Regions from separate parts of the Homo sapiens genome. Here region 2 is linked to region 1. The links come from fine-mapping of genetic effects on gene expression. A gene starts in region 1. The other region holds a variant in brackets. All regions are shown on one strand. Distances are from middle to middle.

Region 1 (4,389 bases):
TGACCAAGGATAACTAAGGTCAGAGCAGGTGACAAGGGTGACTAAGAACAGAGCAGGTGACCAAGGATAACTAAGGTCAGAGCAGGTGACAAGGGTGACTAAGAACAGAGCAGGTGACCAAGGATAACTAAGGTCAGAGCAGGTGACCAAGGATAACTAAGGTCAGAGCAGGTGACCAAGGATGACTAAGGTCAGAGCAGGTGACAAGGGTGACTAAGAACAGAGCAGGTGACCAAGGATAACTAAGGTCAGAGCAGGTGACCAAGGATAACTAAGGTCAGAGCAGGTGACCAAGGATGACTAAGGTCAGAGCAGGTGACAAGGGTGACTAAGGTCAGAGCAGGTGACCAAGGATGACTAAGGTCAGAGCAGGTGACAAGGGTGACTAAGAACAGAGCAGGTGACCAAGGATAACTAAGGTCAGAGCAGGTGACAAGGGTGACTAAGGTCAGAGCAGGTGACCAAGGATAACTAAGGTCAGAGCAGGTGACCAAGGATGACTAAGGTCAGAGCAGGTGACAAGGGTGACTAAGAACAGAGCAGGTGACCAAGGATAACTAAGGTCAGAGCAGGTGACAAGGGTGACTAAGAACAGAGCAGGTGACCAAGGATGACTAAGGTCAGAGCAGGTGACCAAGGATAACTAAGGTCAGAGCAGGTGACAAGGGTGACTAAGAACAGAGCAGGTGACCAAGGATAACTAAGGTCAGAGCAGGTGACAAGGGTGACTAAGAACAGAGCAGGTGACCAAGGATAACTAAGGTCAGAGCAGGTGACAAGGATGACTAAGGTCAGAGCAGGTGACCAAGGATGACTAAGGTCAGAGCAGGTGACCAAGGATGACTAAGGTCAGAGCAGGTGACAAGGATGACTAAGGTCAGAGCAGGTGACCAAGGATGACTAAGGTCAGAGCAGGTGACCAAGGGTGACTAAGGTCAGAGCAGGTGATAGGGGCTAGGAGGGGTTGTTTACTGAAACTAGGGGCAAGGAAACGAAAAGAACGAGGAAGTTAAAGTTTAAAATGAAGAACAAAGAATAGGTGGCCGGGCGCGGTGGCTCACGCCTGTAATCCCAGCACTTTGGGAGGCTGAGGCAGGCGGATCACGAGGTCAGGAGATCGAGACCATCCTGGCTAACACGGTGAAACTCCGTCTCTACTAAAAATACAAAAAAATTAGCCGGGCGTGGTGGCGGGCGCCTGTGGTCCCAGCTGCTTGGGAGGCTGAGGCAGGAGAATGGCGTGAACCTGGGAGGCGGAGCTTGCAGTGAGCCGAGATCGCGCCGCTGCACTCCAGCCTGGGCGACAGAGCGAGACTCCATCTCAAAAAAAAAAAAAAAAAGAACAGGGGAGCTGAATATACGGAAACATTGGTTCTTTGGAGAGGAGCTCATAACTGATTGTACTTAACAATTTACAGGCTAAAACCTTTGAAGAGGAATTTGTTGTATCCTACAACAGTATATTAATTATAGTAGTTTTACTATTTTAATTTCTCATAAATAACAATCAGTAGAATATTAAATAAATATTTAAACAATAATTTAATTTGGCTGGGCGTGGTGGCTCACGCCTGTAATCCCAGCACTTTGGGAGGCCAAGGCGGGCAGATCACTGGAAGTCAGGAGTTCGAGACCAGCCTGGCCAACATGGTGAAACCGCGTCGCTACCAAAAATATAAAAAATTAGCCGAGTGTGGTTGTGCACGCCCGTAATCCCAGCTACTTGGGAGACTGAGGCAGGATAATCGCTTGAACCCGAGGGGGCGGAGGTTTCAGTGACCTGAGATCATGCCATTGCACTCCAGCCTGGGCGACAAGAGCGAAACTCAGTCTCAAAAACAAACAACAATTACTTAAGCAATCATTTTAATAAGTATGTAATACATTATACGTTTATATAACTTGCTTAATAAATAATAGTAGTTATTAATATCCAATGGCAAGCCGCCGGGAAACGACGGAGCTGGGATTTGAGGATTGGCTCCGCGAACCCCACAACACCCGGGGACTCCAGCGAACCACACGGGGTGGATCCAACAGCCGCAGGGGCATCGTGGTCCTGCGGAGACGCCGCCCGCCCGGAGGCGGCGCTGTGACCCAGGTTGGAGAGTCAGGAGCCCAGCGCCGCGCTGCGGGGCCTGCTGGGACTTGTAGTTCGCAGGTTCGGGGTGCGCAGGCGCAGTGCCGAGTTTACCTCTGCGCGCGTCGGGGTTGGTGGCGGCGGCTGCGGCGAGTTCCTGAGGGGCGCCTGCGGGGGGCGTCCGCTCCGAGCGCCGAGGAGCCGAGCGGAGGAGGCGTCCCAGGGACACGCAGGGGAGGCCGGCCGGCCTGCACGGGGCGCTCCCGCCTCGGGGGCCCTGTCTGGCGCCTCAGCGCGCGCCCCGATGGTCACCTGCGCCCACCTGGGCCGGCGCGCGCGGCTCCCGGCAGCTCAGCCGTAAGTGCCGCCGCCTCCCGCGCCGCGACCTCCGTGCCGGGCCTGCCGGGGCTCTGGTGGGGCTGGGTCTGGCGGGGCCGGGTGGCCGGGGCATGACCCTGTCGCGATAGGGTCCCCACGGGAGGGTCGGGAGCCGGCAGCTCGCCCAGGGCCCCAACGCCCAGGATGGCACGGTCTGCCCTTGCCCTGTGAAAACGCCCCTGGGTGAGAGACGCATAAGCTTTCCGAGGCCCAGCCTGCAAGGAGAGGGAGAAGACGCATTGACTCTACCCTAAAGGCAGAGAGGGGCTGCCACGCTCGCACTGCAGTGAGGCCACATCAGAGGGTCTGAGCGAGGGGCGGTCCTGCCCTCCAGGGGACACCGGGCGATGTCTGGGGACGTCTGTGGTTGTCATAACTGGGGGCAGTTCCTGGCATGGAGTAGGTGGAGGCCAGGGATGCAACTCAGCACCCTGCCCAGCCCAGAGAATGACCCAGGCTCCAGTGTCCACAGCGCCCTGAGGGAGAGACCTCACTTATACGTTAGCACCGCTGTCCTGGTGATAAGACAGCAAGGGTCCTTTTTTTTTTTTTTTTGAGACGGAGTCTGGAGTGCAATGGCATGATCTCGGCTCACTGCAACCTCCGCCTCCCGGGTTCAAGCCATTGTCCTGCCTCAGCCTCCCAAGTAGCTGGGATTACAGGCGTATGCCACCACGCCCGGCTAATTTTTGCATTTTTAGTAGAGACGGGGTTTCACCATGTTGGCCAGGCTGGTCTCGAACTCCCACCTCAGGTGATCCACCCGCCTCAGCCTCCCAAAGTGCTGGGATTACAGGCGTGAGCCACCGCGCAGCTGCAAGGGTCTATTCTGTTTATACCCACCACCCATGTTGAGGAATGAGGGAGGCAGCTGACCTTTCTGCTGCTCTAGCAACCCCAACCTCCCTGAACTCTCCCCTACCCAAACAGGTTGGTTTCTTTTTCTTCTTCTTTTTTTTTTCTTGAGACAGTCTCGCCCTATTGCCCAGGCTGGAGTGCAGTTGCACGATCTCGGCTCACTGCATCCACCTCGTGGGTTCAAGTGATTCTCCTGCCTCAGCCTCCCAAGTAGCTGGGATTACAGGTGCACGCCACCCCGCCTGGCTAATTTTTATATTTTTAGTAGATACAGAGTTTCTCCATGTTGGCCAGCCAGGCTGGTATCGAACTCCTGACCTCAGGTGATCCACCTACCTCGGCCTCCCAAAGTGACCACTGCGCCCGGCGCCTTTGGTTCTTACATGAGCCTCCTGGAGCTGCTGTGACAATGCACCACAAACCAGGGGGCAGGGGGAGGCTTGAAATTTATTCTCTCACAAGTCTGGAGGCCAGAAGCCCAACATGAAGATGTGGTGGGGCCGTGGTGCTTCTGAAGGCTCTGGCGGGAGGATCTTCTCTGTCTCTTCCAGCTTCTGGGGGTGGCCTGCCATAGTTGGTGTCCCTTGGCTTGGGGCCACATCACTCCAAGCTCTGCCTGCATCATCATGTGGCCTTCTTCCCTGTGTCTCTTTCTCCTTTTTTGTTTTTATTTTTATTTTTTGAGATGGGGTCTCGGTCTGTCACCTGGCTGGAGTGCAGTGGCACGATCTCGGCTCACTGCAATCTCTACCCCACAGGATCAAGCAATTCTGCCTCAGCCTCTCGAGTAGCTGGGATTACAGGTGCACGCCACCACACCCAGCTAATTTTTGTATTTTTAGTAGAGACGGGGGTTTTGCCATGTTGGCCAGGCTGGTCTCGAACTCCTGACCTCGTGGTCTGCCCGCCTTGGCCTTTCAAAATGCTGGGATTACAGACGTGAGTCACCTAGTCCAGCTGTCTCTTTCTCTTATAAGGACAATACTCATGACCCCAGTAGCTGGAAGAGGCGGAAGGATTTTTCCTGAGAGCTTTTGTTTCTTCTTTTCCTTATCTTTTCTTTTTGAGATAGA
Region 2 (4,389 bases), 32 kb after region 1:
GGAACCGTGCATCTCGGGGGTTCCATGCACCTGTGCCCAATATGCAATATGGAAATAATGAGAAATTGAGAGTGCAGCCTCTAGAGTGGTATGTGGGGAATCACTTCCTCCTGGAATTTGAGACACAGAATTTTCTAGGAAGGCACTATTTTGTCTATGTCTTTTATAACCATTGAAAATTCGTAGTCAAATGGTTTGGACTTCAGTTAACTCCTTTGCAAAGTGGGACTCTTAACTTTATCCTTAAGGTTAGCAATAATACTTTTTTTTTTTTTTTTTCTGAGACTGAGTCCTGCCCTATCACCCAGGCTGGAGTGCAGTGGCATGATCTTGATGCATTGCAACCTCTGCCTCCCGGGTTCAAGCAATTTTCGTGCCTCAGCCTCCCAAGTAGCTGGGACTACAGGCGTGCACCACCATGCCCGGCTAATTTTTTTTTTTTTTTCAGTAGAGATGAGGTTTCACCATGTTGGCCAGGCTGGTTTTGAACTCCTGACCTCAAATGATCTGCCTGCCGCGGCCTCCCAAAGTGCTGGGGTTACAGGCATGAGCCACCACACTTGGCCCAAGAATACTTTCTTTCGGCTCTGGTGAAAAGAGCTGTTTTGGCATTGTGTGCACCTCGCTCTGTGTATACTTAGTGAGTGTGCCTGTGTGTACGAGAGAGAGCCAGCGTGTGAGAGAGAGAGAACCCAGAATTAATTGTTGGGCTTCCGTCACTGAGGCTCGAAGTATAGGGAATGTGTGGAGGTCTACGTTCTCGTGTCTTTTTCCTCTTTCCTAAGGTCTAATTTCTCAATAACTTCTAGTTTCCAAGTTAAAATCAATACTTCTCAAAAGAATGTTTTCATTCAGCCAGTTGGACCAGGAGTTCTTTAAGACGCTATGGCTACCTGGCCCTTATGAAGGAAATAGAAGGGAATGTTCCCAATCCTTCAGTGTTTTTATCCCATAAAACTTCAGTTTTGACCCTGTGCTTTGTGTAGTGCCGAATGATGGTGTGTGCAGCAGGGGAGGAGCTAAAACGGTTTGTGTGACAAGGCACTGATGGTCTTAAAATACAAGTATTTGTTTCACTTATATAGCATTTGTTTGATATCTCCAATGTGGTCTGAATCCTTTTGATAGAGAATAATGTCTTCAGTTGGTCCCAGTAAAAGTATAGAGAGAAATTCAGTGTGTTAATGGTCCTGTGAAATCTATGAGGAAGTGAGTGTAGACAGGAAGGAAGAGGTGTGACAACTGAGTCACAGGGTAGATGTCAGGGAATCACAGAATCTTGTTTGAACTACATACGAATTGAGTACAATGCTCCTGGGCTCTCGGTCTCAACCATCCTCCCATAAATATGTTGAATTGTTTTAGGACTCAGTGGTCTTTGAGGATGTGGCTGTGGACTTCACCCTGGAGGAGTGGGCTTTGCTGGATTCTGCTCAGAGGGACCTCTACAGAGATGTGATGCTGGAGACCTTTCAGAACCTGGCCTCAGTAGGTAAGGATGACATCATTCCTTCCTTCACGTAGTTATTGAGAGAACAAGTATTTCTTACACATCAGACCTGTTCCAAGGCTTGGAATGTGGAAAGGGAATAAATTGGTAAATAAGACAGACATAGTCACAGCTGTCATAGAGCTAGAATGTAATGTTTTTCCATGAGAATGAGAATCTGTATTTCAGCTTTTTATTTTTGTAGAGAAAGCTCCCTTCATGTCGTCATTGTGGATATAGCTTTGATAGGCCTAGTGAAATTTGTTTGTGCAAGCCAGTGAAAATTTGATTTTTTTTTTTTTTTTTGAGATGGAGTCTCACTCTGTCGCCCAGGCTGGAGTGCAGTGGTGTGATCTCGACTCACTGCAACCTCTGCCTCCCGAGTTCAAGCAATTATCTGCCTCAGGCGCCCAAGTAGCTGGGATTACAGGCGAGCGCCACCATCCCTGGCCAATTTTTGTATTTTTAGTAGAGACGGGGTTTCACCATGTCAGCCAGGCTGCTCTTGAACTCCTGACGTTGTGATCCACCCGCCTCAGCCTCCCAAAGTGCTGGGATTACAGGCATGAGCCACCGCGCCTGGCCGTGAATTTTTTTTTTTAATAATTTTTCTATGCTTACT[A/G]ATACTGTGTTGATTGAGTTGCTTACCTTTTTGACCATTTTGTGTTTAATGAAGTCCTGAGATAGCTAAACTCCTCAGTGTCGTTTTCCGCTAACAAGTGCCTTCTTATATGATTTGTTTACTTTTTGGTTTCAGATGATGAAACTCAATTTAAGGCCAGTGGGTCAGTTTCTCAGCAGGATATTTATGGAGAGAAAATACCCAAGGAATCTAAAATAGCCACGTTCACCAGAAATGTTTCCTGGGCCTCTGTTTTAGGAAAAATTTGGGACAGTCTTAGCATCGAAGATCAAACCACAAACCAGGGGAGAAATCTCAGGTGAGTTGCACTCACAAGAGAACATAGTATTTCAGGAGAGAATCTTAGTCTGTCATTAAACTTTAAAAAAGCAAGCAAACAGAAAACTCATCCAAGCCTAGCTCCAATTTGTTTAATCCACAGAATTTTTACAAAAAAATATTTCTTTAAATGTGACATAGACAGTGAGTGACATTAGAAACATAATTCAGATGGAAACCATTATCAAGAAACCCTAGGCCAGGTACGGTGGCTCACACCTGTAATCCTGGCACTTTGGAAGGCTGAAGTGGGCAGATCACTTGAGGACAGGAGTTCGAGACCAGCCTGGCCAACATGGTGAAACCCTGTCTCTACTAAAAATACAAACATTAGCAGGGCATGGTGCCGCAGGCCTGTAATCCCAGCTACTCGGGAGGCTGAGGCAGAATTGCATGAACCCAGGAGGCAGAGGTTGCAGTGAGCTAAGACTGCACCACTGCACTCCAGCCTGGGTAACAGAGTAAGACTCTGTCTCAAAAAAAAAAAAAGAAAGAAAGAGAAAGAAACCCTATACATAAGAAACACTGTTTTAATAATGGCAGTGGTCAAACCATCTTCCAGGGCATTCAGTTTATTTCATTTTCAGACAGTTCCCATGGGGTGAAAAACCTATGCTTTCACTGAAAATGGTTAAGATGCAGTCCTAATCCTAATAAATACTAACAAATCATTATTAATCAAACCAATAACATGCTTCTCATTTTTAGTAGAAATCATGGGTTGGAGAGACTCTGTGAAAGTAATGATCAATGTGGAGAAGCCCTCAGCCAGATTCCACATCTTAATCTGTACAAGAAAATTCCACCTGGAGTAAAACAGTATGAATACAACACGTACGGAAAAGTCTTCATGCATCGCCGCACATCCCTCAAGAGTCCCATCACAGTTCACACTGGACACAAACCATATCAGTGCCAGGAATGTGGGCAGGCCTACAGTTGTCGTTCACACCTAAGAATGCATGTGAGAACCCACAATGGAGAGAGACCCTATGTGTGTAAATTATGTGGGAAAACCTTTCCTCGTACTTCCTCCCTCAATCGGCATGTAAGGATTCACACTGCTGAGAAAACCTACGAATGTAAGCAATGTGGGAAAGCCTTTATTGACTTCTCAAGTCTTACTAGTCATCTCAGAAGTCACACCGGAGAGAAGCCATATAAGTGTAAGGAATGTGGGAAAGCTTTCAGTTATTCCTCAACGTTTCGAAGACACACAATAACACACACTGGCGAGAAGCCATATAAATGTAAGGAATGTGCGGAAGCCTTTAGTTATTCCTCAACTTTTCGAAGACATATGATTTCACACACTGGAGAGAAGCCACATAAATGTAAAGAATGTGGGGAGGCCTTCAGTTATTCTTCGGCTTTTCGAAGACACATGATAACACACACTGGAGAGAAACCCTACGAATGCAAACAATGTGGGAAAACCTTCATTTATCTCCAGTCCTTTCGAAGACATGAAAGGATTCACACTGGAGAGAAACCCTACGAATGCAAACAGTGTGGGAAGACCTTCATTTATCCCCAGTCCTTTCGAAGACATGAAAGGACTCATGGTGGAGAGAAACCCTATGAATGCAACCAGTGCGGGAAAGCATTCAGTCACCCCTCCTCCTTTCGAGGACACATGAGGGTGCACACTGGAGAGAAACCCTATGAGTGCAAGCAATGTGGGAAAACTTTCAATTGGCCCATATCTTTACGAAAACATATGAGAACACATACTAGAGAGAAACCCTATGAATGTAAGCAGTGTGGGAAAGCCTTCAGCTTGTCTGCTTGCTTTCGAGAACATGTGAGAATGCACCCTGAAGACAAATCCTATGAATGCAAGCTATGTGGGAAAGCTTTCTATTGCCACATATCCTTACAAAAACATATGAGAAGACATACCGCAGAGAAACTCTATAAATGCAAGCAGTGTGGGAAA

Evidence for each region. PIP is the estimated chance that this variant, and not a neighbour inherited with it, causes the effect.
Region 2: its variant is the best candidate, but not a certain one, in a credible set for the expression of ZNF554 in whole blood (INTERVAL, PIP 0.62).

What each region holds. Positions count from the first base shown.
Region 1 is chr19:2,817,688-2,822,076 of GRCh38, forward strand. ZNF554 (zinc finger protein 554) reads left to right here and starts at 2,181. Exons shown (of 5, transcript NM_001102651.2): 1 at 2,181-2,437. The coding sequence starts at 2,385. RefSeq lists a silencer at 2,220-2,659 and an enhancer at 2,592-3,285.
Region 2 is chr19:2,849,222-2,853,610 of GRCh38, forward strand. It overlaps ZNF555 (zinc finger protein 555), which reads left to right. Exons shown (of 4, transcript NM_152791.5): 2 at 1,366-1,492; 3 at 2,247-2,430; 4 at 3,159-4,389. Among named protein-coding and RNA genes, the nearest start is that of ZNF555, 9.9 kb to the left of the region's middle. The variant A/G (reference allele first, on the strand shown) is at 2,112.